Homo sapiens: one gene and its partner. The protein of the gene in region 2 purifies or fractionates together with the protein of the main gene of each other region. This does not show direct contact. Each region holds a gene or a part of one and is shown on either strand. Other genes may lie near its edges. The genes, in order: LYRM7 and RAB40A.

Region 1 (3,823 bases), on a different chromosome or scaffold from region 2:
CAACATTTCACATGTAAAGGATGGAAAAAATCAGAATGGTACCTGATTTCTAAATAGCACCACTGTAAGAAGACAATGGAATAACATATTCAAGTTTTGAAAAAATGTCTGCTTTAGAACACCATAGATACTCAAACTATCACTCAAAGACAAGGGCAAATACATATTTTCAGAAATGCAAAGTCTCTTATCTGTCATACACACTTTATTGGAAAGCTACAGAAGAATATCCTCCACCAAAATAAGGAAATGAATCACAAAAGGAAAAGACATGGGAACCCAGGAGACAGGTAGTCTAACATGGGAGAGGCAAAGACCATGGGGAAGGACAAATGCTAGTCAACATTTGTGCAGCCAGACTAGAAAGCAACTAGGCAGGACTATAGCAAAAGACTGAATTGCTCCAGGAAAGTTATTGCAAGGAAAAATGAAACTGGTAGACTGGTTTTGCCTAGAATTTGGGAACAGATATCTAGGATATCTATTAAAGGATATTTTTAAAAAGTAATAATTTTTAAAAGGCAGTTATTAATTTAAAGATGAAGAAATGGGAAAAAAGACAATCATATAATGTACTTAAAGGGCTCAGCTGTGGGTAATTTTTATAGCAATAATAACATCAAAGATGTTAAAGTACTAGGTGCTAGTAGAACTGTGAGGGCAGCTGTTTGCTTTATAGGACACAAATGAGAAAATGTGGTGTATATATACATCATAGAATACTAAAAAAGAATGAAATCATGTCCTTTGCAGCAGCTGCTGGAGACCATTATCCTAAATGAAATAACTCAGAAACAGAAAATCAAATACTGCATATTTTGACTTATAAGTAGGTGCTAAGCAAAGGGTACGCCTTTGTGGATAGAACGCCAAAAGGGAGACGCCAAAAGGGAGGAGGATAGGAAGGGGTTGAGGGTGGAAAAATTACCTATTGGGTACAATATTCATTATTTGGGTGATGGGTTCACTAGAAGCCCAAACCTCACCATTATGTAATTTACCCATGTAATAAACCTGCATATGTACTCTCTGAATCTAAAATAAAATTAAGAAAAATAAAAAGTCAAAGAATTTGAATAGATATTTCTTCCAAAAAAAAAAAAACCCATAAATGGCCAATAAGCCATAAAAAGATGTTCAATGTCATGTGCCATCTGGAAACACAAATCTAAACCTCAATGAGATACCATTTCATCCCAGTAGAATGGCTACTGTAAAAAAGACAGTCAATAAAAAGAGTTGACAAGGACATGGAAAAATAGGAACTCTTATACATTGTTTGGCATTTAAAATGGTACAGTTGCTTTGGGAAACAGTTTGGCAGTTGCTAAAAAAAGTTAAACCTACAGTTATCTTATGACCCAGAAATTCTACTACTAGGTATATACTCAAGACAAATGAAAACATGTTCACACAAAAACATGTATGCTAATGTTCATGGTAGTATTATTCATAATAGTGAAAAAGTAGAAATAACCTAAATGTCCATGAACTCATGAACGGGGAAGTAAAATGTGAAATATCCTTATTAATAAGAGCTTAATTAGCTCTTAATAAGCTAACGCAGGCTGATGCAGTGGCTCACGCCTGTAATCTCAGCCCTTTGGGAAGCTGAGGTGGGTGGATCGCTTGAGCACAGGAGTTCAAGACCAGCCTGGCCAACATGGTGAAACCCTGTCTCTACTAAAAAATACAAAAAATTAGCTGGTGTGGTGGTGGGCACCTGTAATCCCAGCTACTTGGGAGGTTGAGGCAGGAGAATTGCTTGAACCTGGGAGGTGGAGGTTGCAGTGAGCCGAGATGGTGCCACTGCACTCCAGCCTGGGTGACATCGAGATTCCATCTCAAACAAAACAAAACAAAACAAAACAAAACCAGCCTGGGCAACATGGCCAAACCCTGTATCTACAAAAAATAAAAAAATTAGCCAGGCGTGGTGGAGGGTGCTTGTAGTCCTAGCTACTCGGGAGGCTGAGGTGGGAGGATCTCTTGAGCTTGGGAGGCAGAGGTTGCGGCGAGCCAAGATGACACCACTGCACTGCAGGCTGGGTGACAGAGTGAGACCCTGTCTCAAAACAAAACAAAACAAAACAAAACAAACAAACACACCCAAAAAAGGCCGAGCGTGGTTGCTCATGTTGCTCATGCCTGTAATCCTAGCACTTTGGGAGGTCAAGGCAGGCAGATCACCTGAGGTCAGGAGTTTGAGACCAGCCTGACCAACATGGAGAAACCCCATCTCTACTAAAAATACAAAATTAGCCGGGCATGGTGGTGCATGCCTGCAATCCCAGCTACTCGGGAGGCTGAGGCAGGGGAATTGCTTGAACCTGGGAGGCAGGGGTTGTGGTGAGCCGAGATTGCGCCACTGCACTCTGCCCTGGCCAACAATAGCGAAACTCCATCACCAAAAAAAAAAAAAAAAAAGAGATTGAAGCTGGTGACTTTGAGTTGAAGCCAATAATTTGTCATTCCAAAATCCTAGGACCCTTAAGAATTATGCTAAGTCTACTCTACCTGTGCTCTACAAATCAACAAAGTGCATCTGTTTAAAGCATGGTTCGCGGATATTTTAAGCCCACTGTTGAGATCTGCTCAGAAAAAAAAAGATTCCTTTCAAAATATTACTGCTCACTGACAACACACCTCATCACCCAAGAGCTCTGATGGAGATGTAAAAGGAAATTAATATTGTTTTCATGACTGCCAATACAACATCCATTTTGCAGCCCCGCAGGTCAAGGCCAAGTAGTAATTTTGGCTTTTAAGTCCTTTTTTTTTGAGACAGGGCCTTGTTCTGTCACCCAGGCTCGAGTGCAGTGGTACGATCATGGCTTACTGAAGTCTCGATCTTCTGGGCTCAAGCGATCCTCCCACCTCAGCCTCCAAAGTTGCTGGGAGCACAGGCGCATGCCACACATTGAGCTAATTTTTGTACTTTTTGTAGAGACAGGTTTTGCCATGTTGCCCAGGCTGGTCTTGAACTCCTGACTCAAGCAATCTGCCCACCTCAGCCTCCCATAGTGCTGGGATTAGAGGTGTGAGCCAGACTTCTAAGTCTTATTTAAAAGACTCATAAGGCTATAGCTGCCATAGACAGTGATTCCTCTGATGAATTTAGGCAAAGTAAATTGAAAACCTCCTGGGAAGGATTCACCATTCCAGATGCCATTCAGAGAATTCAAGAGAGGAGGCCAAAATAGCAACAATAACAGGCATTTGGAAGAAACTTATTTGAACACTCATGGATGACTTCGAGGGGTTCAAGACTTCAGTGGAGGAATTAACTGCAGATACGTGGAAAGTGCAAGTGAAACTAGGATAAGAAGTGGAGCCTTAAGATGTGACTGAATTGCTGCAATCTCGATAAAACTTAAATGCATGAGGAGTTGCTTCTCATGAATGAGCAAAGAAAGTGGATTCTTGAGTTTATGAAGATCATCACTCACATCACTTCACCCCTGGTGAAGATGCTGTAAACATTGTTGAAATAACAACAAAGGATTTAGAATATTATATGAACTCAGTTGATAAAGTAGTGGCTGGGGTTGAGAGGATTGAATCCAATTTGAAAGATGCTCTACTGTGGGTAAAATGCTATCAAACAGCATTGCATGCTACAGATAAATCTTTTGTGTGTGAAAGAGTCAATCAATGTGGTCAACTTTACTGTAGTCCTATTTTAAGAAATTGTCACAGTCATCTTAACCTTTAGCAACCACCAATCTGATCAATTAGCAGCCATCAACATCGAGGCAAGATCTTTCATCAGCAAAAAGATTACAACTTTCTGAAAGCTCAAATAATTGTTAGCATTTTATAG
Region 2 (4,183 bases):
TCCCAGGAATGTTGTGGGAAATTCATGAGATAGAAAAGTACCAGCGTTCAGGAAGGGTGAGTCCCCACAGCTCCGTGAGGCCAGAGATACTGCCCTTCTGCGGGACTTTGTTACAATCACCCTATGACAATGCACAAATAAATGGTCATTCAATTACAAAAGAGTACAAGGACTTATATTTACTCAGTTCATCCAATATCAATTATTATAATAATCAACAGTGTAAATTGGAAAGTAACTACGTGGAAACCACTTCTCCTTCTTTCCCATCTAAGGTCTCAGAAGTGCTTTCCCAGATGTGATCTCATTAACCTCTATATTGATCTGAGAGGTGTTAACCAAAACTGGCCAGCACAGGGGAAATGACTCACCTAAGGCCTTATAATGGGCCTGCCCCGCCATGTTCTATTGCATTGTTTTTCTGCAAAGCCTCATCTTGCGGGGTTACACTATACATATTTTTCCTCTCTTTTCGTTTTACCAAAGAGAAAAATATATACTTTTTTACTGTTAAGAAACATTTTCTCAAATAAGTACGTATTTCATTCCTTACTGAAATGGTTTTTTCTTATTGATCCATTGAAACCATATTGGCTATGTTCAACATAACTAGAGATATCTTTGGTGTTTTCCTCCCTTAGCTTCATATCTTGTAGAACATCTCGTACAAAAAAAGTAGATTTACAGAAAAACATACATATAAATCACGTATTAATCCCCAAATGTAGTAAATAACATAGCAAAAACTTTATCAAATCCATTTCATGCACAAGCTGGACAGATCTGTTATATACAATCTCTATATGCATCTGCAGTGTTTTATAAATTGGTGCTTTGACATTAAAAAGGAGGTTTACAAAAAGGCCCCTCTTGTACTATCGATGACTGAATTATCTCACTATCATTGCTTCTCAAATTTCCTTGAATTTATACTCATCATTGCCATATCACCATTCTAACAAAGGCGGTTATTTTAAGGAAAAAGTTGCAGCGTGATTATGATATAAGTAACATTCAAAATTTCACGTTATCAAGAGTTGAGCAAAGTACTAATTTCCCCTTTATAAACACACGTTTAAAACAAGAGCTTCATGCACATCCAAATAGAAATTCAAAGTCAAACTGTGTAATGTGTTTTTATTGACAGAAGGCATCACACACATTCCCAAGCAGCATGGTTCCCGTGAGAAACTGAAAACTAATTTCTTGAATCTACAATGCGACTTCCATCTTCCAGGTGTAACCAGAGTTTTTCCTGGAGCGATTCCAGCTTGTTTCCTTTTGGTGCCTTCCTTAAGAAATTTTGCAGCTGTTTCTGGTGCAGTTTTTGGGTGGGCTCTGGGGTGGGCAGACGATCTCCACTTTGCAGAGGCTGCTCTTGTGAGTGGAGCTGGTGGTGAGGGAGTAGGAGAGGCCTCGCATCATCCTGGCATTCAGGCCCTTAGCCATGGAGAAGGACTTGAGGTGGCTTCTTAAGGTACTGGGGAGCGGGAGCTTGTCCACCAGATGCACAGGTGTGCAGGACACGATGGTGCGGCAGCAGAGGTCTTGCAAGCTCAGTACCTTGCTCGGCCTCCCGAGCCAATTCATCCTGTGCCGCAGCAGCACTATCCTGGCCAGCTCCGTGAAAGACTCTATGATGTTGAAATTGCACAGAGGGCTGACCTCAAAGAAGGTCACACCCAGGCGCTCGGCGTAGGCCTGGGCCTGCTCCCTGGGCACCTGCCTCTTGAATGCCAGATGTAGGCGATTCCCCACCAGGATTTTAGGGACACCAGGGGCATGTTCCTCAATCTTCTTAATCCATCGATCCATACCCTCGAAAGACCAGCGGTTTGCAATGTCGTAGACCAGGATCACTCCTTGTGCACCACGAGAGTAGGAGCGGAATATGGTACAAAATCTTCCCTGCCCCGACGTATCCCAGAGCTTCAGCTTCACCCGCTGGCCGTCCAGCAGGATGGTGGTCGTCTTGTAGTCGATCCCCCCGAGATGGCTGTACGGGGACTCAGCTGCACCATCCTGCAGGCTCTCCAGGATCTCACTCTTGCCTACGTCCCTGTCGCCCACCAGCAGGAACTTGAGCAGGAAGTCATAGGCCTGGTCGGGGCTGCCCGGGGCGCTCATGGTGCTGGCCCCGCACTCCCGCCTGAGCCAGGCCCGCGGGGTTGTGCGCAGAGGTGGTGCCGGGCCTGTTCTTCTTGAGAAATTAGCATAGAACATAAAAAATGAGATGGGGAAGTCTGTGAAATAAAGCGAAATGAGGTGGTGGCTTTGATGGATTTCTTTTACAAACCCTAGGAAACTGATTCAGCGATTGTTTTCCTTTTTCTTACCCAGCACAGAGTAGTGACACAGCAGTTAATTCATCATGGAAACCTATACATTTCCCTTAAAACTTTCATGTGATCGTTATGGAACCATGCCTTTTGGATTATGTCAAAGGAATCTCCTTTAAAGGAAGGACGGGTATGGGATAGGAAAGGGACTAAGATGTGTTGAGTACTGTACGTACCCTATGCTGTGTATGACGCTTAAAATATTTTGTTCTTTTGCTTTCAGAACAGTTGTCTTTGGTAGCTATAATTGTTTCCATTTTACAAATGAGAAAAGGCAAACTCAGAAATGTTATGTAATTTTTTAAAACATTGCCATTAATATAGAGATCACAGAAATCACAATCCTGAGCCAGTGCTCTCCTCATATAACGCACTACACACCCTTTCTACTCTGTGGCCATGCCGGGTTTAGGAGTAAGTGTGAACTGTCTGTGCATGTGATCCTTGACAAGCCACGCATGTTTACATGGGCACTAATACTTTTCTTGCTGCAGGGGGACATCTCCCATAAATATAAGAGCCAAGATCTCAGAAGAGATATCTAGGACATGGATTTTGCTAGAGTGTCTCATAAATAATATTCACCCAACAAAGATGTGTTGAAATAATGCATGCATCCATCAGTGAAGGGTTTTAGGTTTAACACATGTACAGCTCCTATAACAAAATAACAAAACTGAAAAAATATGTATATGGTTCACAGGTGAAGAAACGCAAATGGCCAGTAATCACAAGAAAATGCATTCTAGCTCACTAATACATTAAAGAATGCTAATGAAACCATCTAAATATCCTTTTATCACCTATCATCTGACAAAATTTAAATGTAGAAAAAAACCGAAAAAGAATTTTTTTTTAATTTGCAAAAGAAAAAGATGCAAAAGAAAAAGGCTCTGTGTGTGTCTGTGTATGGGGGCAGGATGAGGGACCAAATACATCAAGGAAATGGAAACACACTTATCAGTTATAAATACACTTAAATATTGTAACTACAACAGGTACAAAGATGGTTAAAGAAATGAGAATGCTCATACACATATAAGGGAGTTTAAATTATTGAAATCAAGCCCCAAGGGATAGATGTTTACAAATGTAATGGAGGAAAAAATTTTCACATGTCCAAAATAGCCAGGTAAGTGGTTATTTGAAATAGCATTGCTGAAATCTTTTTAAAAAGGAAAAAATGAGAAACATTCTAAATACTCATCAATACAGAACAAACGTGAATAAAGGATAAGAAAAACATTTCTATTTCTCTGTGGGCTTCAGGGCAAATAGAGAAAAAAAAAACCTTTAGATTAATTCCAGATTTAGCTGACAATAAGGAGATAATAAAGTTCTCTCCCTGATTTACACAAACTCCCTTAAAGACAGCACCCTGATTGGAATAATGATCATAATCATCGGTACCTTGAACAGCCGTTAGGATAAAGGAGATGAAATATAGAGTGCATTTGCCTAAAGTAGTTCAGTGCAGGTTACTTTCCTTCTCTTCAGCTCACCTGTCCCAAGGCCAACACCTAAGCTTCTGCCTGAGCCCACTCACCACTTAAGGGATCAGCCAACTCATACGGTCCCACACCCAGTCTCTTGGCATAAAGTGCAGGATTTCACTTCTGTCTTCCTCATCACCCAGAGGGGTTGTGGAGTGGGGGACCCATGGGGCCACAATAGCAGGGGAGTGGAATCTGACATTTCTCAAGCCCTGGAAGCCCATCTTCTAAAAGGGGGTGCTCAGGGTCCTTTAGGGAGGGTGAGGGATGAAACCTCATTCCAATCCTGCCACTTACCTGGGAAGGTGACTTAGGCTCTGAAAGCCTGAGCTTGATTATCTGTGAGATAGA

What was found.
Region 1: the proteins of RAB40A (region 2) and LYRM7 purify together in Homo sapiens (affinity purification with mass spectrometry, with the first as the bait; one large-scale study listed by BioGRID). This does not show direct contact.

What each region holds. Positions count from the first base shown.
Region 1 is NC_000005.10:131,173,802-131,177,624, reverse strand, and holds part of LYRM7 (complex III assembly factor LYRM7), read right to left. Parts: intron 1-3,823.
Region 2 is NC_000023.11:103,498,630-103,502,812, forward strand, and holds the end of RAB40A (ras-related protein Rab-40A), read right to left. Parts: exon of another isoform or gene 4,130-4,183; intron 2,274-4,129; exon of another isoform or gene 2,198-2,273; 5' UTR 2,128-2,197; coding exon 1,294-2,127; 3' UTR 501-1,293; downstream 1-500.